Linked DNA regions of Homo sapiens. The protein of the gene in region 1 purifies or fractionates together with the protein of each later gene. This does not show direct contact. Each region holds a gene or a part of one and is shown in the gene's direction. Other genes may lie near its edges.

What was found. Proteins that work in one complex are often made in the same cells at the same time.
Region 2: the proteins of TMEM266 (region 1) and HM13 purify together in Homo sapiens (affinity purification with mass spectrometry; 2 studies listed by BioGRID and IntAct, with this or other methods). This does not show direct contact.
Region 3: the proteins of TMEM266 (region 1) and WDR20 purify together in Homo sapiens (affinity purification with mass spectrometry; 2 studies listed by BioGRID and IntAct, with this or other methods). This does not show direct contact.

The regions. Positions count from the first base shown.
Region 1 is NC_000015.10:76,062,984-76,070,002, forward strand, and holds part of TMEM266 (transmembrane protein 266), read left to right. Parts: intron 1-7,019. UniProt on the Homo sapiens protein: Voltage-sensor protein present on the post-synaptic side of glutamatergic mossy fibers and granule cells in the cerebellum. Despite the presence of a voltage-sensor segment, does not form a functional ion channel and its precise role remains unclear.
Region 2 is NC_000020.11:31,509,929-31,517,456, forward strand, and holds the start of HM13 (signal peptide peptidase), read left to right. Parts: upstream 1-4,513; 5' UTR 4,514-4,623; coding exon 4,624-4,806; intron 4,807-7,528. UniProt on the Homo sapiens protein: Catalyzes intramembrane proteolysis of signal peptides that have been removed from precursors of secretory and membrane proteins, resulting in the release of the fragment from the ER membrane into the cytoplasm.
Region 3 is NC_000014.9:102,135,107-102,142,911, forward strand, and holds the start of WDR20 (WD repeat-containing protein 20), read left to right. Parts: upstream 1-4,790; 5' UTR 4,791-4,817; coding exon 4,818-5,066; coding exon of another isoform or gene 5,067-5,102; intron 5,103-7,805. Other genes in the region: HSP90AA1 (heat shock protein HSP 90-alpha), read right to left, coding at 4,144-4,298. UniProt on the Homo sapiens protein: Regulator of deubiquitinating complexes. Activates deubiquitinating activity of complexes containing USP12. Anchors at the base of the ubiquitin-contacting loop of USP12 and remotely modulates the catalytic center of the enzyme.

The DNA.
Region 1 (7,019 bases):
CTGGGATATTTGTTTTTCCTTGATCGACCTTGTAAGCTACTTCATTATGAAATGTGTTTTTTCTTAAAGTATTTCTTAATTTAGTATTCTTTAAAATGAGATTTTTATTCAGTTGTCGACAGTCTTGAATCACAAAAGTTCACAGATTACTTTGAAATACTTGATTTTCATCAGTCTCTGTTTCTTACTATGGCTGTCGTGTGCTGTGTCCTGTGATAGGAAGTTTCACATCTCATATTGCAGTGACCACCCTTTGTGGTCAACTGTTTATATGATAAGAAGTGGGGGAGCCCAAGGTATATGACCTAAGGGGCAGAGCCAAGATTTGAGCCCAAGTCAGCATAGCTCAAACTCTGGGCTCATTGCCTTTTGCACCCTGACTGCAAGATGAAGCACTTTCTGCCCCATAGTTCTCTGGCCTCCCATCCTATTCTGCTCCATCCACACTGGCCTCCTTGCTGTACCCCCTGCCCCAGGCCCTTAGCACTAATGGTTCTCTCCCCTGGAATACTCTTCCCACAGGTATCTTCATAGTCCCTCGCCTCATTTCAGCTTTGCTCATAGTCCAACCACTCCTTTAAAACTATCCCCACTCCCACAGCATCCTTTCCTCCTCCCTGTCTTGCTTTTATTCGTAGCACCTCCTAGCCTACTATATTAATTAGTTGTTAAGTGTATTGCCCATCTCCCCCATGGAATGAATGCTCCAAAGGGCAGGGGTTCTGTGTATTTTGTTCACTCCCCCAACTCTGGTACTGTGAAAAAAGAATCAACAAATCACTATGGTATCCTTGAATCTTTCCAGCTTCCCACACTTTTTGTTTTTGTTAGTCCTTACTGTTCTCTGTAGTGAGCAATGAAACCTCTAAAATGCAAAAGCTTTATGTGTTGTTTGGGGGAACAGCAAGAAAGTAGAGAAGAATCGGGAAAGATCTGGCTTACTCTTGAGCCGGTGTTGGGAAGAGAGGAACCTGTAAAGATGGGGAAAAAGTCACCTGAGGGTTGGGATGTGTGACGAGGCAGCAAATGGTACGTGGGGAGATGGCCTGGGATGGAGAAGAGATCTGTGTGGGTTCCCTTGTAATGGGAATGCATAATGTTTTTGAAGAACTTCCAAAGGAGACTCTGGATTCCTTCAGCCATCCATCAACTCTCCCAGTGGCCTGAGTCACTAGAAAGGAAAAGGAGCCTACGGTCATTCCTACTGGCTTTTTACACAGACAGGTGAATCCTTGCACTGCCTGCATTATTAGCCTGTTGCATTTTTTAAACATTAAATACCTGTTGGTGTCATCCCTGTTTGAGCCAGGGTCTGAGAGTTCACTGCCAAAGCACTTACCCCATGTGTCTGAGAAGCATCACAGCCTGAGATGTCTTTGGTGTAAGCAGTCCCAGGAAGGACTCCACATATATCTTTCATTCATCTATTGTTTGCAGTAGTTCTTGGGCCGTAGCAAAATCATAGGCACTTTGAGGACTGATTCATCTGCAGAACACTTTAGAATGGACTACACTGGGATGCTAAAGGGAGTTCATGGTTATGGAAAGAAGCCTGGGAGAAACTGCTCCTCAGCCACAAAGGCCTCCTCTCCTCCTCCCGGATGGCTTTAATTGCTGCCCTAGGCAGTCTGAATTACCCGCCAGGAGAGGATTTCCCCTTCAAAAAACACAGCCTCCCTAAAACTGCTTTTGATTTGTAATAGAAACTACTTAGTAGCTAGGACAGAGGCTGATAACTCCTATTCCCAGAACTCATTAAAACAAGGAATTTTAATAAGTATTTTTGCCCTTTGCAGCCCAGGTTTTTGGAAGTCCAGGCAGCTGTTCTCTAGATTTCACTGTCAAGCCGTAATGCATGCAATGCTTCAGCTTCTTTCCCTTGGCTCAAAACAGGTCTGAAGCAAGTTATTTTATCTACAATTCCCTCACACCATCCCACCCTGGTTACACAATTGCCATTTTCTCCAGCCAATACAATGCATAAGGCCAATTAACCTTCTGCCCATGACAGTTTCCTTTGAAATAGTCAAATCTTTGTACTTTACCTGAATTTGATGCAGGGCTTTTAAAAAACAATTTCTATGACAGTTACTAATTCTCCTTTAACCATGACTCCTAAAATTTGTTAGCTTTGCCCATCAAAACAAAAGAACAAGGTGAAATATATTGCAATTCCTCAACAAAGAAAAAGTTCCATTGTTTTGGGACACAGTCTCAAAAGAAAAGCTTGGAAATTTCTCTCCCATTTCTCCCTGTCTTTTAACTGTCAGTTTCTATGCAAGGCTCTATCACTGCCCTTCTTGATACCCTGCAAGGAGCTCCTGCCCCCACCCCTCTACTGAAACAGAACTCTTAAAGGTCACCGGTGATTGCCTAATATAAATCCAATGGCTGTTTCTCAGATTTCGTTCATGATGGCTCAGCAACATCTGACCCCATTGACTTCCTCTACTCTTTGAAATGCTGTCTGTCGGCAGCTCCTTCCTAGCGGTGTCCGTGTCTATCTGGTCTCTCCTCTGCTGTCATCCTTCCTGTTCTATCAAGAGGCAGTCTGAAGTGGTTAAGAGTGTGGGCTCTGCCTGTGATGTGAATCCTGGCTCTAGCACTTGCTAGAGTAGCTTTGAGTAAGTGATTTAACCCTCGTACCTCAGTGTCCTCATCGGTAAAATGGGGAGAAGAGTAGCTACGGCAGAGGATTAAATAGTATGCTTAGTAAAGGGTAAGCACCCAACAAATGCTATTTTTTTTTATCATATAACTTCCTGTGTACATGCCTGTAACTTTAGAATAAAACCCAAATGCCTCCCTCTAGCCATCAGGACCTCTAAGATCTGGCTCTCGTTTAGTTTGTTTATATCTCAGACCCTCCCCAGTGTGCGTCCACTTCTGAGGCTTTGTCCCGCGCACTCCCCACTCAACCACCCTCACCTCTTCCTATTCTGCCCCTCCTTCCCTGGCCAGAGGAGGGAAGAATGCCGAGGGGTGCCCCTGCCCAGGAGCCACCAAGCACAGCCTGCTTTGTAGCAGAAGACAGCCTCCCTTGGGCATGGAGCCTGTCTCTCTCAGACAGAGTATGAATTACTTAAGGGCACCAGCTGTGATTTATACTTTTAAAAAATATCTTCCTCAGCATTTAGCACTATAACTTTACACATAGTGGGAATTTAACTCATATCTTTTAACTGCCAAAACATTATGGTTTTACTTGGCCCTTCCAAAATCCTTTTTCCTCCTAAATTGAAACCTGTATTGATCAGTCCTGGAGCTCATGTAAGCTTGATACGGGATAATTAAGTCAACACCACAGGGAGAGTTACCCATGTCAGAACCTTCTTGGAACGAGGAGGGATATATAGAAATAATTAAAATAATGAGAGCACAGGGAATAATTTAATGCTTTTAAAAAGTAGCTTGAAATCCTACCAACCTATAAAGCTGTTAGAATTTTTAAGAAGTGTTTAGAAGTTTTTTCTATACTCTCTACTCTCAGAATAAAATGAGCTGTAAAGCTGTGAGTATCAAATCTATCAACCCTTCAGACCTTGCTATAGGCCTGCTCTGGAGCCACTGTGTTCTAGTCCTGCTTGCTTTCTCCTTCCTGCCCTGGTGAAGAGGGCATTGAAGTTGGATGAAAATCAAAGGAAGGGCTGCCTACTTAAAAAAAAAAAAAAAAATTAACCCCTTTATTGGCGTTGTGAGTTGGCCTGGCAAAGACAGCCTAAGTTTTCATCGGCATCTGCTGTGTGTGTCCCTGGGGTCATGAAGAGTGCCAGAGCTGTGCTGCCAGTATAACAGCTTCCCACCCCACAACCCTGGAAGCCACAAAGGACCATATGCTTTGCATCTTGACATTCTGTAGCAGAGTTTCTCAACTTCAACACTGTTGACACATGGGGCCAGGTGACTCTTTGTTGCAGGGGCAGTCCTGTGCATTGTAGGATATTTAGCAGCATCCGTGACCCTTACCCACTAGATGCCACCGGTACTACCGCGATTACCCCCCGTCCCCAGTGGTGACAACCAAAAATGTCTCCAGAAATTGCCAAATGTCCCCTAGGGTGCAAAGTCACCCCCATTTGAGAACCGTTCTCCATAGGATCAATACAGAAAACTCAGCATCTTTCTAGTTTGAAGAATACAGAACTTAGATAATTTGGGTCAAATGAAGATGAAGATTGGGTTATAATATACATGAAAGGTAAATTTGGGTTTGAAATTACACAGACAAGGAAAATTTAGACTCTATAAGCAGTTGTAGATTATATCATAAATAAGGAGATGTAAACAAATTACAGAAATGCAGACCATCTTCTTACTCCTGAAGGCCTCGGGTCTAGATGCAACAGCACATTCTGGGACTGTTAAAATCATCCTTGGGGCTGGGTGCGGTGGTTCACGCCTATAATCTCAGCACTTTGGGAGGCCAAGGAGGGCGGATCACCTAAGGTCAGGAGTTTGAGACCAGCCTGGCCAACATGGAGAAACCCCGTCTCTACTAAAAATACAAAAAATTAACTGGTGTGGTGGCACATGCCTGTACTCGGGAGGCTGAGGCAGGAGAATCACTTGAACCCTGGAGGCGGAGGTTGCAATGAGCCGAGATTGCGCCATTGCACTCCAGCCTGGGTGACAGAGCAAGGCTGCGTCTCAAAAAAAAAAAAAAAAAGAAAAGAAAAGAAAAGAAAAGAAAAAGTCATTCTTGGGTTTTTTTTTTTTTGGCATTGTATTTAAGAGCTTAAAGTATGCAATAACACATCCTGTGACTGTTAAAATCATCCTTGGGGTATTTTTTTGTGGGGGGCATTGTAATTTAAGTGCTCAAAGTACTTGTCGGCCTTTGACAATAAGTATATCAAACCAAAAATAATTAATATTTCTGGAGAAATCTGAAATATTTGATTATGACTGGAGGGAATTATATTTGACCTGCAAAGGGCCAGCTCTCCCCACCAGAGCCTGCTTCTGACCATAAAGCCACTCTAAGACAGCACTCGCAGGTGCTGCATAAAGTAGGACTGACAAGGTACTTTGTGCTTTGCTGAAAGGCCACAATTGCTCAGTAATCTTCATGGCTCTTAGAAAATTTAGCTGGAGACTTGTGATTTAAAACCCACCTCCAATTGACAGTCATCATTATGTTCTTTCTAAATGCAGTAGCAGAAATTGCATGCCATACCCAAAGGCTAAAAGTGACAGTTAAAATACATGCTTTCTGAAAAACTTTAAGGCCCCAACTTTGGGAGAGACCTGATTTGGCCAGAGATTACCTTTGGCTTGTTAATTGCCCTAGGGATGGGAAAGTGTTTACACAGATGATCTCCAAAATGTTCCCTACGAATAGTCTAGAAATAAGCCTTGTGTAGTTTCTCAAAAGGAGGCAAGGTAGAATTACTAATTCCATAGACTACTGTATCTTCAGTGTTCCAGACTTGTGCTAACAGGTGGAAGGAACTCCAAAGATCATATCCAATACAGTGGACTGAGTTGTTTCCCCTCCAAAAAATATATGTATATGTTGAAGCCCTAACCCCCAATGTGACTTATCAGGAGATAGGGTCTTTAGGAGATAATAAAGGATAAATGATGTCATAAGGGTCGGTCCCTAATCTGATAGTACTGTACCCTTATAAAAAGAGGAAGAAAGATACTATCTCTCTCTCCTGCTTCCATGTGAGGACACAGTGAGAAGGTGGCTGTCTGCAAGCCAGGAAGAGAGCCCTTACAGAACTTGACCATGCTGGCATCCTGATCCAGGACTTCCAGCCTTCCAGAACTGTAAGAAAATAACTTTCTGTTGTTTAAGCCACCCAATCTATGATATTCTGTTATGGCAGCCTGCACTAACTAATACATCCAGCATCCTTGTTGTACAGATGAAGAAACTGGATCCAGACAGGTAGACTTGCAAGAGGTCAAGCTACTAATGAGTGGCAGGGCTGGAACATAGTGCCTGTGCTTCGTGACTCCTAGCCCAGTGTACATTCTCCTTCCCACACTTTCTCCCGTCATATGGTCATCTTATTTATCATCTCTAGAACCTACAGCACATCACTTCTGTGAGCATCAGGGTCCTTATGCTTGCCCTGTTTATCTCAGGATTGTTGCAAGGATCAGTGACATAGCAGAAAAAAGATAGTTTAAGTTTTCAAACTACAAAATATTGTACGAACATGTCATACTGAACTCAGATTCGGCCTAGTTAGCAGGAATCTATCTGCCTCTGGAAATTGTAAGTCTAGTCAAGTAGGTAGCTCTGTGAGGTCACACTAGGCTAGGTCGACTCATGGGTGGGCTGGCTGTTGGCTTTAAGGAATAGATCAAAGGACAGAAAAAGCAGGAGGAGATAGGGCCTGGTTTGGTGATGAACCACCTCAAAGCGAGATGATTGCTCTTCTCTTTGGTTGAGTTGTAAAAGCTGAGGTTGATATGAGTTTGCATAGTAAGAGGAATGTTCCTCTTAAAGAGGATAGACTGTCAGAGCTGGAGGAGACCTTAAGAGCTCAAGGTACCAACCAGAGTCTCTGGTGTTAAGCAACAGAAACATACCCTGGTGGGCCGGGTGTGGTGGCTCACACCTGTAATCCCAGCATTTTGGGAGGCCAAGGCAGGTGGATCATCTGAGGTCAGGAGTTCGAGATCAGCCTGGTCAACATGGTGAAACCCCATCTCTACTAAATACAAAAAATTAGCGGGACATGGTGGTGCACGCCTGTAGTCACAGCTACTCGGGAGGCTGAGGCAGGAGAATTGCTTGAACCCGAGAGGTGGACTTTGCAGTGAGCCAAGATCATGCCACTGCACTCCAGCCTGGGCAGCCGAGTGAGGCTCTGTCTCAGAAAAGAAAAAAAAAAAAGAAACCTACCCTGAGAAACTTCAGCAGTAATGACAATTTATAAACTATAAGATATTGTACAACTGTAAATACCATTCTCAGCTCAACTTTTATTGAATGTATTGAATATTATACAACCTTTATTGCATTTATTGAATATTTATTGAATTTATTGAATATTATGCAA
Region 2 (7,528 bases), on another chromosome or scaffold:
TGTAGTCCCAGCTACTTGGGAGGCTGAGGCAGGAGAATGGCATGAACCCGGGAGGCGGAACTTGCAGTGAGCTGAGATCATGCCACTGCACTCCAGCCTGGGCGAAAGAACGAGACTCCATCTCAAAATAAAATATAAGATCCACATCTTGGTTGGGCGTGGTGGCTCACGCCTGTAATCCCAGCACTTTGGAAGGCCGAGACGGGCAGATCACGAGGTCAGGAGTTTGAGACCAGCCTGACCAACATGGTGAAACCCCATCTCTACTAAAAACACAAAAATTAGCCGGGCGTGATGGCGGGTGCCTGTTGTCCCAGCTACTCAGGAGGCTGAGGCAGGAAAATTGCTTGAGCCCGGGACACAGAGGTTGCAGTGAGCCAAGATCACACTACTGCACTCCAGCCTGGGTGACAGAACAAAACGCCATCTCAAAAAAAAAGATAAGATCCACATCTAATTTTATTGACACAGAAAATGTCAAGAACCCCAAATTTGGTTGGTTTGAAGAACATGTGAAGGGTTTGACTAGATGATGAATGTCAATATTAAATCAGCTGAAGTTTCATATACAAAATGAAGAGGAACAGCATTCAAACTTAGTTAAGACACAATTTCCTTGAGTGGCCAGGCATGGTAGTCATGCCTGTAATCCCAGCACTTTGGGAGGCCAAGGTGAGCAGATCGCTTGAGCCCAGGAATTCAAGACCAGCCTGGGCAACATGGTGAAACCCCATCTCTATAAAAAATGGAAAAATTAGCTGGGCATGGTGGTATATGCCTATAGTCCCAGCTACTCGGGAGGCTGAAGTGGGAGGGTCGCTTGAGCCCAGGAGGTCAAGGCTGCAGTGAGCTGTGATCATGCCATTGTGTTCCAGCCTGGGTGACAGAGTGAAAATGTGCCTTGAAATAAAATTTTCCTTTGAATACGGCTTAAGAAATATGGCCACTTAAAACTCTACCTTGAAAATAAATATAGATTTTATCTTATCTAGAGGTAGAGTGGGAAGTTTTCATTTGGTACATTAAATCTATAAGGCCATAAACAGGTAATATAAAAAGCTTTCATAATTCAATTTATATATAACATGAGAAGGAACTTCCAGGTGTTACTATGAATCTTCTATGTATAGTTACAGTCAATATACTTTATATAAGAGATAATTTTAATACCAATATAATCTAGATAACATTTTACTTTGTTATGTTATCATTGTTCTCTTGGGGAATAAATTTTTTCCTCTGAGGCTCTGGATTTGACATTGAATTTTGTGTGTACTAATTGACATGTGCCAGGGCAATGATGGACTGGAATCCACCCCCAAATCAAAGCATCATGGTAAATCTTGCTTATCCTTATAAAGTCAAATGATAGACATTTCCCATCACCTATTTCTATTCAACAAGAGCACCAGATTCAGTTAGCTAATCTGCTTCCAAAGAGTAGAACTGCATTGAGCTCAAATAATTTCAAAATACTGACTTTTTTTTATTTATTTATTTATTTTTTAGATGTGGTCTTGCTATGTTGCCCGGGCTGGTCTCTAACTCCTGGGCTCACACGATCCACCCACCTCGGCCTCCCAGCATGCTGGGATTACAGGCGTGAACCACCATACCCAGCCTATTTCTGCGTATGTTAAACATGCTTTACAATTTTAAAAATGAACTGTTTTGAAGGTAAAATTACAAATCTTGAAATTAAAAAAGCAAATATGTAAAGGAGCAAAAACTATAAATCAAACATTTGAGAAGAGAAAATTGGAGGCTAACTTGTATTAAATTCACAAAAACTTCTATACTTTCTGTAAATACTTTTTTAAAAAACTATAGATCAGAGGCTAGGCGCAGTGGTTCACGCCTGTAATCCTAGCACTTTGGGAGGCCGAGGCGAGTGGATCACTGAGGTCAGGCGTTCGAGACCAGCCTGACCAACATGGAGAAACCCCATCTCTACTGAAAATACAAAATTAACTGGGCGTGGTGACGCATGCCTGTAATCCCAGCTACTCGGGAGGCTGAGGCAGGAGAATCGCTTGAACCAGGGAGGCAGAGGTTGTGGTGAGCCGAGATTGCGCCATTGCACTCCAGCCTGAGCAAAAAGAGCAAAACTCAGTCTCACAACAAACAAAAAAACTATAGATCAGAATAACCACCTTTAGAACACTTTCGGTTATCAGTCAATATTTTTAGATAGAAGCTGGTAGTAAGCCTAAAGTGGGCTTAATTCTGCAGTAAACAACTGCCTCAACACATAGAAATCTTTTTTAAAATAGGCACTCTTGGCCGGGCGCGGTGGCTCATGCCTGTAATCCCAGCACTTTGGGAGGCCGAGGCGGGCGGATCACGAGGTCAGGAGATCGAGACCATCCTGGCTAACACGGTGAAACCCTGACTCTACTAAAAATACCAAAAATTAGCCGAGCGTGGTGGCGGGTGCGTGTAGTCCTAGCTACTCGGGAGGCTGAGGCAGGAGAATGGCGTGAACCCGGAAGCTGGAGGTTGCAGTGAGCCGAAATCGTGCCACTGCACTCCAGCCTGGGTGACATAGCAAGACTCCATCTCAAAAAAAAAAATAAAAAATAAATAAAATAAAATAAAATAGGCACTCTTGCGGGAGGTGGCAGCTCATGCCTATAATTGCAGAACTTTGGGAGGCCGAAGTGGGCAGATTGCTTGAGCCCAGGAGTTTGAGACCAGCCTGGGCAACATGCCGAAACCCCATCTCTACTAAAAACACAAAAAGTTAGCCGGGCGTGGTGGCACACACCTGTGGTCCCAGCTACTGGGGAGGCTGAGGTGGGAGAATCACCCAAGCCCAGAAGGTAGAGGCTGCAGTGAGCTGTGATCATGCCACTGCACTCCAGCCTGGGTGACAGAGTGAGACCCTGTCTCAAAATAATAATAATAATAATAATAATAATAGGCCCTCCTTGAAGTTTTTTGTTTGCACAGTCACACAGTGATGCTTAGATGTTCCAGTATCTAATATAGCCACAGTAGGCTGCAAGCAGTGGCTCATACCTGTAATCCCAACACTTTAGGAGGCTGAGGCAGGAGGATCACTTGAACCTAGGAGTTTGAGACCAGCCTGGCCAACATGGCAAAACCCCATGTCTAAGAAAATATATATTTTTAACTTTTTTAACAATATCAAAAATAAGAATCACATAAATAAACAGATTCTTCAAATTCTGAAAAGAGCCACAAAGCTTTATAAATTGTACAGGGGCATGAACTCGTAAGGTATTATAATTGCCTGGCACATAGTAGGCTCTCAATACATTTGCAAACTCCACACACACCTTACTTTCTTTTGCTTTATTTTTCTCTATTTATCTGCATTAACATGCTATGTAACACATAACTATACATTAACGTTTTACAAATTACAAATTTTTCTTGTTTTTTTTTTTTTTTTTTTTGAGACAGAGTCTCACTCTGTCGCCCAGGCTGGAGTGCAGTGGGCTCACTGCAACCTCCGCCTCCCAGGTTCAAGCCAGTCTCCTGCCTCAGCCTCCCAAGTAGCTGGGATTGTAGGCGCCCGCCACCACGCCCGGCTAATTTTTTATATTTTTAGTACAGACGGGGTTTCACCGTGTTAGCCAGGATGGTCTCGATCTCCTGACCTCGCAATCTGCCCACCTCGGCCTCCCAAAGTGCTGGGATTACAGGCGTGAGCCACCGCGCCTGGCCTTTTTTTTTTTTTTTTTTTTTTTTTTTTTCAGACGGAGTTTCGCTCTTGTTGCCCAGGCTGGAGTGCAATGGCTCAGTCTTGGCTCACTGCAACCTCCGCCTCCCGGGTTCAGGCGATTCTCCTGCCTCAGCCTCCCGAGTAGCTGGGATTACAGGTGCGTGCCACCACGCCCGGCTAATTGTTTGTATTTTTAGTGCAGACGGGGTTTCACCATATTGGTCAGGCTGGTCTCGAACTCGTGACGTCAGGTGATCCACCCGCCTCGGCCTCCTAGAGTGCTGGGATTACAGGCGTGAGCCACTGCGCCCAGCCCATTTTACAGACTTTTATTTTGTTCAGTTTCTTTATTGTCTTCCCAACGTCCCCCCACACACACTGCACTAAAATGCAAACTTCACGAAGGCAAGGAGGAACTTTTGCCTGTATTGTTCACCTCAGTGTCCCCAGAGCCTAGGTCAGTTGTTGGCATATTGAGGGACATTCAATAAATATTTAAGGAGTGAATAAACAATTGGATACCCAATAAATGCATGTATGAATAAACACATTCTTAGTTATTCGGAATATGAGGATTTGCGGAGAGTGGACAGCAGGGGATTGAGGAGACCGGCTGGGACTGGGAAATGGGCATTCGGGTCGCATGCCCACCGCAGTGGCCCAGAGCCCCTGTCCGGACCGCTAACAAGTTGCTTAGCAACCCGCCGCCCGGCCCTCGGCCACCGCTAGAGGGCGAGCGGGCGGGGAGACGTGCACGCGCGCGCGCGTGCGTGCAAGCGTGTGTGCGCGCGTGCGCGGCGCGGGCTTGGGAGGGAGCACGTCACTTCCTGTTGCCTTAGGGGAACGTGGCTTTCCCTGCAGAGCCGGTGTCTCCGCCTGCGTCCCTGCTGCAGCAACCGGAGCTGGAGTCGGATCCCGAACGCACCCTCGCCATGGACTCGGCCCTCAGCGATCCGCATAACGGCAGTGCCGAGGCAGGCGGCCCCACCAACAGCACTACGCGGCCGCCTTCCACGCCCGAGGGCATCGCGCTGGCCTACGGCAGCCTCCTGCTCATGGCGCTGCTGCCCATCTTCTTCGGCGCCCTGCGCTCCGTACGCTGCGCCCGCGGCAAGGTAGGGTCAGCGGGAAAACCGGGCACTTTCCACCCCCATACCGAACACGGCCGACATGGACCCTTCCTAGGCGGGACAGACACCTCTCCCCGGACACTGACTCTTCCCAGCCCTGATCACCACCGTTCCCTCTGTCTCGGGCCCACATTCCGGGGCTGGCATTTCCTACCCCGGGATCTGGGCACCGACCCCCGACCAGGGTATGATACCTTCCCCAATAGGAACTTGCTTCTGCTCCCGACCCGGACCCTGACACTTCCCTCCCTGTGCATCATGCCGCGGCTGGGAACGCTGTCAGCCCGTCCCCCACTGCGACTCGGGCACTGATTGTTCTGAGCCTGTTGGGCCCAGGCAGATCAGCCCCATCATGTATACCTGATGGATACTGGTCCTCACAACTTACTGAATGGTACAATTTCGTGTCATTCCCTGTTAGGAACCCTGCCTCAGCCCACCGCAGGGCCCTTTCTACCATCCAGACCCATCCCTAGACTCTGACTCCTGTCTCACTGGAATCTATGGCACCTTATGTGCTCACCTAGATCCCCCACACCTGGCCCTTGCCCCTGCCTCAAAAACAATGATCTCTTAGAGCCCAGTTTTTCACATCACTTTCTGGAACCATCCCAGTCAGCTGGCTCCTCAGAAGCTGGCATCTTGGTGCCTCTACTTTCCAACTAGGCATGGACGTCTTATTTTCCTGGTTTCCTCTCTTAACTACCATCCAACCTTGGACATGGCCTAGTCAAAACCTAGACCTTGTTCCTAACCTGTAACCCTTTTCCCACCCAGCCTTTGACCCTATCTCAAAGTAGCCCTTCTCCCCATACCCCCAAGACAATCCCCCCACCAAACTGGGCCTGTCTGCTGGGCCACTGTTGGCCCCTCTTGTGAGACTGGGCCAGACTCCATCCCTGGCCTTCCTCAACATCTGTCCTATTGGATAACTAGGAGGACTCCAGCACATTTCACCTTCTGCTTCTCCCTCCCCCTTCCCTGCCCCACTTCTTCCCTATATTAAGCCCTTTCTAGCCCGTTGTACCAATGACTTTTCACTTCCTGGCACCCTCTCCCTTCCTCCACAACCTCTTAATCTGCACCTTCCCGATGCTCCTCCCCCACCCAGACCTGAGGATGGACCTAAGTGGAAGTCTTGCCCAAAGAGGGCAGGCCCACAAAGCAGCTGCCACTTTTGAAACTGCTGAAGCTGAGGTTCTCAAAACACTACCCAACTTGAGCAGTAGCTGAGGCCTGCCATCTTCCTTCCCCAGGAGCAGAGAACTCACTACTGGCTCTGTATGCGATCAGATGCAAAGGAAAGTAGTTAGGCGGGGCTTAGGCTGAGAGACTCAAACATGACTCCATTTTCCTTTTTATTTGGCTTTTTCTAAGCTGAGTTCAGGTGATATTAAGCCTCTCTACTATGCCTGTCAGGTAGACACTTAGTGTAGAGAGCAGTTCTGAGATAACCCAGGACAGAGGAGGCGAAGGACAGCTGGCATAAGGCTAGGCAGCTTGATCTGAGCTGCTCTCCAAACTGAGTAATTCTCCCTGGCACCTTCTGTACATGGATCACTAATCTCTGCAGAAAACACCTTCCAGGCAACAGTATTTCCTGAACTTCCACCACTGTCAGGGGTAAGGGAGGATTGCTGCAAAGATGAGTAGGTCAGAGCCCTGTCACCAAGGAATTCGGGAGCGTAGGTGAAAGAATAATAACTAGATTGTGATTATACTACAAGCAATGCTACAAGGTTTAGGGAGAAAGATTGAGCACATCTGGGACAATGCAGGGAGGCTTTGTGCTAGAGGTAGGCCTGAGCCTTGACGTAGAGGTAGAATTTCAGCCAGGAGAAGGCATTCTAAGCAAAAGAAACCAGGTAAGCAGAGAGAGGTACGGAGGCAGGAGGCTACGAGGCAGTTCAGGAAATAGTGGAAGGTTTGGTGTGGCTGGAACAGAGGGTATGGATAGGAGAAAGCCTTAGCCTCTGAATACCTCTCCCAAGCATCTCCTGCAGGGCAGCAGGGTGTGGAGGACTGTATGAATTTACAAACAGGACCTGACCATTAAGAGCCTGCCACCACCAATGACCCAGATGCGGTAAAGCTTGCAAAACCTTGACGCCCTTTGATGCTCACAGCAACTGAGGTGGCAGGCAGAGCCAGTTTCATTATCCTCATTGTACAGGAAAAGAAACTGAGAGTCAAAGAAATGACTTCTGAAGATCACTCTGCCATTTAGGGGCAGAATCAGGTATGCCTAGTCCTCATCCAGGGCTCTCTCCTAACACAGGTACCTTTAAAGACAAGCAGCATTGACCTAGGGAAAGGACAGGGCAAATGACTCCCCTTCTACCCTGAGTCGTTTCCCTGGTCATGTGAAAAGGAGAGAGAAGAGTTAGTGTGGGGACCCAGTTTTGATTTCCCACCAGTGTTGGACCCCAAAACCAGTTGGGAGAGAGGGAATGTGAGGACAGAATCCCCAAGGGTCAAGGTGTCCATAACAGGCAGGGAAAATTGTGAAATCATGGAGAGAAAGAAGGTAGAGCCTCCAGGAGTATGTTGTGAAGAAGTAGCCTTGGGAGGAGCAGTCTCAGAGCAGCACCCATCACTGTCAGAGTCCTATATCCCAGACAGAAGCGAATATGACCCAGGCAGTAGCTGCACATTAAACATTGGTTTAAAGGGCCCTCAGCGAACAGGACTGGGTGCCTGCTGTGGG
Region 3 (7,805 bases), on another chromosome or scaffold:
GGTGTGTTTACAAACCTTGAGCTAGATACAGAGTGCCGATTGGTGTATTTACAATCCCTGAGCTAGACATAAAAGTTCTCCAAGGCCCCACCAGAGCAGCTAGATACAGAGTGTGGATTGGTGCACTCACAAACCTTGAGCTAAACACAGGGTGCTGATTGGTGTGTTTACAAACCTTGAGCTAGATACAGAGTGCCGACTGGTGTATTTACAATCCCTGAGCTAGACATAAAGGTTCTCCAAGGCCCCACCAGAGTAGCTAGATACAGAGTGTGGATTGGTGCACTCACAAACCTTGAGCTAAACACAGGGTGCTGATTGGTGTGAGCCCAGCTGCCTTCACCTAGTGGATCCCGCACCGGGGCTGCAGGTGGAGCTGCCTGCCAGTCCTGCGCCGTGCGCTCGCATTCCTCAGCCCTTGGGTGGTCGATGGGACTGGGCGCCGTGGAGCAGGAGGTGGTGCTCGTCGGGGAGGCTCCGGCCGCACAGGAACCAATGGAGTGGGTGGGAGGCTCAGGCATGGGGGCTGCAGGTCCCGGAGCCCTGCCCCGCGGGAAGGCAGCTAAGGCCCGGCGAGAAATCGAGCACAGCGCCGGTGGGCCGGCACTGCTGGGGGACCCAGTACACCTCCGCAGCCACTGGCCCGGGTGCTAAGTCCCTCATTGCCCGGGGCCAGCAGGGCTGGCTGGCTACTCCAAGTGCGGGGCCCGCCAAGCCCACGCCCACCCGGAACTCCAGCTGGCCCGCAAGAGCCGCACGCAGCCCCGGTTCCCGCTCTCGCCTCTCCCTGCACACCTCCCTGCAAGCTGAGGGAGTGGGCTCCAGCCTTGGCCAGCCCAGAAAGGGGCTCCCACAGTGCAGTGGGGGGCTGAAGGGCTCCTCAAATGCCACCAAAGTGGGAGCCCAGGCAGGGGAGGCGCCGAGAGCAAGCCAGGGCTCTGAGGACTGCCAGCACGTTGTAACCTCTCAGTATGACTTAAATTGTGTGGGTATTTCAAATAATTGAAAGTTTTTGGACAAAAGAATATGTAATGTCTAAAGCACTGTTTTTAGAAAATTATTTTGGTAGTTGTTTAGAAGGAATTAATGCACAAAACCATCATAATGATTCAAGTTTGAAATGAAAAAATAATTCATAAGGTTTAGAAACTGATGAATTTATTTAGAAATACCCGGTTTGGGCCGGGCGCGGTGGCTCACGCTTGTAATCCCAGCATTTTGGGAGGGCAAGGTGGGCGGATCACGAGGTCAGGAGTTCGAGACCAGCCTGACCAACATGGCGAAACCCCGTCTCTGCTAAAAATACAAAAAAATTGGCCAGGCCTGGTGGCACATGCCTGTAGTCCCAGCTACTCGGGAGGCTGAGGCAGAAGACTCGCTTGAACCCGGGAGGCAGAGGTTACGGTGAGCCGAGATCATGCCACTGCACTCCAGCCTGGGCGACAGAGTGAGACTCGTCTCAAAAAAAAAAAAAAAAAAAAAAAGAAATACCCGGTTTGGGCCGGGCGCGGTGGCTCACGCCTATAATCCCAGCACTTCCGGAGGCCGAGGCTGGTGGATCACCTGAGGTCAGGAGTTCAAGACCAGCCTGGCCAACATGGTTAAAATCTGTCTCTACTAAAAAATACAAAAATTAGCCAGGTGTGGTGGCAGGTGCCTTAATCCCAGCTATTTGGGAGGCAGAGGCAGGAGAATCGTTTGAATCCGGGAGGCAGAGGTTGCAGTGAGTCGAGATTGAGCCATTGCACTCAAGCCTGGGGGACAAGAGCGAGACTTCTCTTAAAAAAAAAAAAGGAAACAAAAAAAAAAGAAATACCTGGTTTGAGGCCGGGCGCGGTGGCTCACGCCTGTAATCCTAGCACTCTGGGAAGCTGAGGTGGGTGGATCACCTGAGGTCAGGAGTTCGAGACCAGCCTGGCCAACGTGGTGAAACCCCGTCTCTACTAAAAATACAAAAATTAGCTGGGTGTGGTGGCATGCGCCTGTAATCCCAGCTATTCGGGAGACTGGGGCAGGAGAATTGCTTGAACTTGGGAGGCGGAGAGCTGAGACTGTGCCACTGCACTCCAGCCTGCGGAGAGCTGAGACTGTGCCACTGCACTCCAGCCTGGGCAACAGAGTGAGACTCCATCTCAAAAAAAAAATTTTTTTTTAAATTCCCGGTTTGAAATTGAAAATCAGAAATAAAATTAGGTCAGGCCCATTTATTTATTTATCTATTTATTTATTTATTTCCTGAGATGGAGTCTCGCTCTGTTGCCCAGGCTGGAGTGCAGTGGTGCCATCTCGGCTCATTGCAACCTCCACCTCCCGGGTTCAAGCAATTCTCTTGCCTCAGCCTCCCGAGCAGCTGGGATTACAGGCATGTGTCACCACGCCTGGCTAATTTTTGTACTTTTAGTAGAGATGGGATTTCACCATGTTGGCCAGGCGGTCTCAAACTCCTGACCTCGTGATCTGCCCGCCTCGGCCTCCCAAAGTGATGGGATTACAGGTGTGAGCCAACACGCCCAGCCATTCAGGCCTAGTTATTTAGATTTGGGTGTTGCTTATTGAATCTTTGAATATGGAGGAAAAGTTATGAGATAAAAAGAATAAAAATAGAGACTATTCAAAGGCTATGCATGGGACTGGGCACTGTGGCTCATGCCTGTAATACCAGCACTTTGGGAGGCCAAGGTGGGTGGATCAGCAGGTCAAGAGATCAAGACCATCCTGGCCAACATGGTGAAACCCCATCTCTACTAAAAATACAAAAATTAGCTGGGCGTGGTGGTGCACATCTGTAGTCCCAGCTACTCGGGAGGCTGAAGCAGGAGAATCGCTTGAACCTGGGAGGCAGAGGTTGCAGTGAGCCAAGATTGCACCACTGCACTCCAGCATGGCGACAGCGAGACTCCATCTAAGAAAAAAAAAACAAAACTAAACCAAAGGCTATGCATGAGACAAAGTGAACAGTTTATTACTGTGATTATAATAAAATGTTGAATTTATATAGGGTAAAATCTTGATAGAATGCTTGAATTATATAGGTATTATGGGAAATACAATGTTATGGTTAATTGAAGAATAATACAAAATTTTGTTTTAACTTTTGCTCGCTGGGTTTTTTTCCCCCCCCAAAAATTATACTTTTTTTCCTCTTGATAATTAGGAAACACAGATAAATTATTTTTAGATGATTCAAGATGCCACTATCCTTCAAGTTGATTATTGTAAAATACGTGTTTTCAATGTAAAATAACACAGTTATGGAGTTTGGGATATAGCCATGGTAACGACAGAACATACCCTGGTGTTTTAAGATTAGGGAAAGTCGGATAACATCAAAACAATTCTAAGAAAAAATTTTAAGTATTTTTCAGGCTCTATTAATTAAGAAGTACTTCAGTGCTTTTTTTTCTTTTTTTTTTCCAACACTACAAAGGCTAAAGATGTTATTATCAAATGTATTACTACATCATTGGCACAGTTTCTATTGGTATCTACTTGCTTTTTAATACGGAAGATGTTTATGATTTACACTCCTCCTACTTTAGAAATTCTCTCCATTCACTTCTTTTGTGCCCCTCCAGATATAATCTGAACTTCCAGGAATAGATCATTCTTGGTGTTACAAATGTTGGCTTCCCCCCTCCCTGGAATTCTATTAGAATGTTTCTGTCACTTTAGAAGCTTTCTTATTCTGGTGTAACATGCCAAGAAACCCAGGTATAAAATAGTGATTGTTGAATCTTACTTTGACACGTGTGCCCGTCCTTATAAATCTAGACCCTGTACATTACATGCATACAACTATCCCTATGGATCTACTAGTAAATAATCTCACAGACTCCACCTGAGGCTTCTGGAAAAAAAAACAATTACCTTAAATTTTATTAAGAGCTCTTCGTAACCTACTGAGCAAGATCAGTGAATCCTAAAAAGATTCAGTCCCCGGTTCCCAAAGCGCTTCCCCGCCCCGTGTTTCTGAACAGCTGGAGAGGACAAACCTCCGCTAAGAAGCGGAGGCCGCCAGTGCTCATCACACGCAGGAATTAGGATATCTGGCTTGAGAACACCTATGCTGTACCACATTCTTCTCTCCCCCTACCCCGCCTGAAATAAAACATAGTGAAGCGTAAATCTTGAGTCCCTTGGTACCTTCTCAGAAACGGCGGCGAGGAGGCTTCAGAGGGGCTTCCTGGGCGGGGATCCAGACGGTCGCGCGGGTATTCAGCACTCTGGGCGGGACAGTCCCTGTCCCGAAGGGAGGGCCCAGGAGGGGTGGAGCCGTCCCCGCCCGAACACGGGGGCATCCGCGCTCCCCGTAGGGTACCCCGCGTGCTGGCTCCGAAGCGGTGGCCGTCGGGGTGGCGCTCTTCCTCCGCTCTTTGGGGTCCCGGCGCCCCTCAGGGCAGGGCGGGAGACCGCTGAGGAGGCACCCTCAAGTTCACCTCAGGCTCATGACACCAGCCCCGCCGCGGTTCCCCCTGACCGGCTTTCCGCTGGCCCTGGCGGCTGCGGAACGGTCAACTAGACCCCACTAGCTGAAGCCGGCATCACCTGGGAAGCAGCCATGCCGCCCGGAGGCCACACCCGGGGGAGGAGCCTGCGGACGCCCAGTCGGGTGGAGCACGCCAGGTGAGCACGCCTGCGCAGTCGGGCCGTAAACAAGCCCACCCCTTCCCTTTGGCCCGCCCTCGCAGGGCTGGCCCGCGGGTGGGAGGGGCGAGAAGGAAGAGGCAGGGGGTGGGGGAAGAGGGAGCACCAGGAACAGCGCCTGCGCGGTGGGCGTGATCCGGGCACTTAGGGCAGGATGAACGCTGCTTTCCAAGATGGCGACGGAGGGAGGAGGGAAGGAGATGAACGAGATTAAGACCCAATTCACCACCCGGGAAGGTCTGTACAAGCTGCTGCCGCACTCGGAGTACAGCCGGCCCAACCGGGTGCCCTTCAACTCGCAGGGATCCAACCCTGTCCGCGTCTCCTTCGTAAACCTCAACGACCAGTCTGGCAACGGCGACCGCCTCTGCTTCAATGTGGGCCGGGAGCTGTACTTCTATATCTACAAGGGGGTCCGCAAGGTACCGACCCGGGCGTCACCGGAGCCAGCCAGCGGCGTAGGCAGAGGCCGGGAGCAGGGCGGTGACAGTGGGGCCAGGGTGACCGAGAGGGGTGGCCGTCGCTCTTACTTTTGAGTGGGCCGGTAACTCCACTGGGGTACTCCTGAGGAGAGGGGATTCAGGAGTAAGGAGGGTGGTGGCGGTGGCGTTTCGAAGGGGTGGGGGCAGTGGAAAGGGACCGTGGGGCGCGGGGGTTCTGGCTGGGAGGCTCCCGGGGGAGCCGGCTGCGTCCCCTCCAGCCTGGTCCATCAGGCTCTGACATGGCCAGGGAGCGGGCCTGCGAGTCCCCGGAAGAGGTGAGGTGGCCGTCTTGTCTGCTTCGATTGCCTCGCCTCCCTGGAGGGTTGGAAGTCTCGCCCTGGGTTAGAGAACAGGGACGCAAGACGGCTTAACAAGATCTCTGTAAGGCGGAACCGGGGCCGGGAAGCGGAGCATTGAGACTAGGTCAGAAAGAACCTGCTCGGCACGCAGGGCTACTCCACCTGCTGCCGCACTGACACTTCCTAGGAGCCTCTCCTGGTGTTAACATTTCTATTTCCAAAAACATCCGCGGGAGGACGGCTGTCACTGTCTCCGCCGTGGGGACCTTCTGAAAGATTGTTAAGGAGAGTCATCTTGTCCCTTGTAGTATGCGAAGGGCTGAGTACTACAGTTGAAATGATGTTTCCAGTGAACTAAGCTGGTTCAGAGGGGTTGTGTGAGAGTGCCCAGATTAATCTTGTCCAACAAGTCAGACTGTGTCCCAAACAGGGAGTGATATGCTTTAAAAGCTGCTTTAAAGGGACCATCCTTCTTGGCGGGCGAGTTACCGGTAATTCTGTGAAACATGTAAGCATCCTTTAAAAGTATCTCTTTAAAAGCAGCCATTTATTAGAGTTTTTCTTTCATTGGCTATGTAACTATGTTTTCACTGAGAATTGCTTATTTTTGAGATTGTAGTCTTTGACTTGATGTCATGGAAGAGTGAGGAAATTAATGCATCCCACAGCACCTCCAAATAGGACAAGGTGATAAAAGATTAAGTCGTAAATGCATGTTAGCATGAAAATAAATTGTTCATATTGAAGAGTGAACATTCTTCAGGATTTAATATAGCCAGATCCAGTACAGGATTTTCGCTTGTTACAAGAGCTAGGGAAATGACAGTGGTATCTAAATGTAGCAAAGTTGTTTCTTTGATTCAGGGTGAATCTTTTTTTCTTAGTCTTTATGATAATAAGTGTACCACTGTATTTAGGGTATGCTGTTGGAAGTTATTAAGGGTAAATCGCTTGACCTTTTTTTTTTCCTCGTTTGGAATTGCAAAAGCTCGAAGTAGTCTTCAGTCTAGGGGCTGAAGTTTTACTCCTACTCCCAACTTTGTCACTGACTTGTTTGGGTGACCTTGGATAAGTTATTTAACTTCTATTTGCACCTCTTTAAAAAGGGAATGTTACAGTGCACGTTGTAATTAATAATATAATAATCATAATGAACTTTAAGGCCCTGAAACACTCAGTAGATGTAAAATATAGTTAAATACTGACTGTCAAATAAGAAGCTGCTGTCTTGACATTGATAATCAGAGTGAAAGGACCAATTTTGTCTCAGGAAATTAAGTTTAGAATTTTAAGTTATAAAAATTTATATTTATATAAAAATACGATGTGCTTAAAAACTAAATTCACTAACTAGCAATTATTAATGTAGGAATTACTTAAAAATTTTTTTTTCTTTGAAATGTTATGACTTCTGAAGCATCCTAATGGCAGACCTTATCTGGATCTGGTAGCCCTGTTTTACATCATAAAGACAGGTTTCTTGCCTGGAAGTATCATTACAATAGTGTTCTCTTTTAGTGGGACGCTATTCCCTGAAGGGTAAAAGGAGGCAAGGTTTTTAAAACCACACCAAAAAATTATTTTAAACAAGATAAATGTGAAATACGTAAATTGCCCTTACCTGCATAATTTGAGTGTTTTAACGCTTTTTGGGTAAAATTTCATTTTCATGTGGTAGTATCTTGTAGATACATTTGCATTGTGTTGCAGATGTTTCTACTCTCTTTTAATTGTAACTTAAACATTTTTTTCCATGAATGAGTTGGCATTTATTTGTTGTTATTTCTGAGTATAAGTGACTTTTTATGACTATTTTCTGATTTAAAATATAGGAAATACATTTTCCTTAATTGGAAAACCAAAATTTACTTTTTAGAGTTAGTAGTTACAAACATATTTTTGACAGTTGGCTATTAAACATGTTTTTGTTTTTGTTTTTAGAGACAGGATCTCATCCTGTTGCCTAGGCTGGAGTGCGGTGGCGTGCTCATCGTTCACTACAGCCTCAAACTCCTGGGCTCAAATGATCTTCCCACTTCAGCCTTCCTAGTGGCTGGAACTACAGGTGTGCACCACCCTGGCTAATTAAAAAAAAAAATGTTTTTTAGAGATGGAGGTCTTGCCGTGTTGCCCAGGCTGGTCTTGAACTCCTGGCCTCAAGCGATCCTCCCACCTCAGCCTGCTAAAGTGCTGAGATTATAGGTGTGACCCACCATGCCCAGCGCACAGTTGGCTGTTTTGACTTTTTTTTTTTTTTTTTTTTTTTGGTCCTTTGAGGCGTGTAAAATTTTACAATAATTATTTGGATTATTCAGAAGATCTAATTTAGATGAGTAAATTCAACTTAAGTCTGTGTGTAAAATGAGTAGAAAATAGGTCT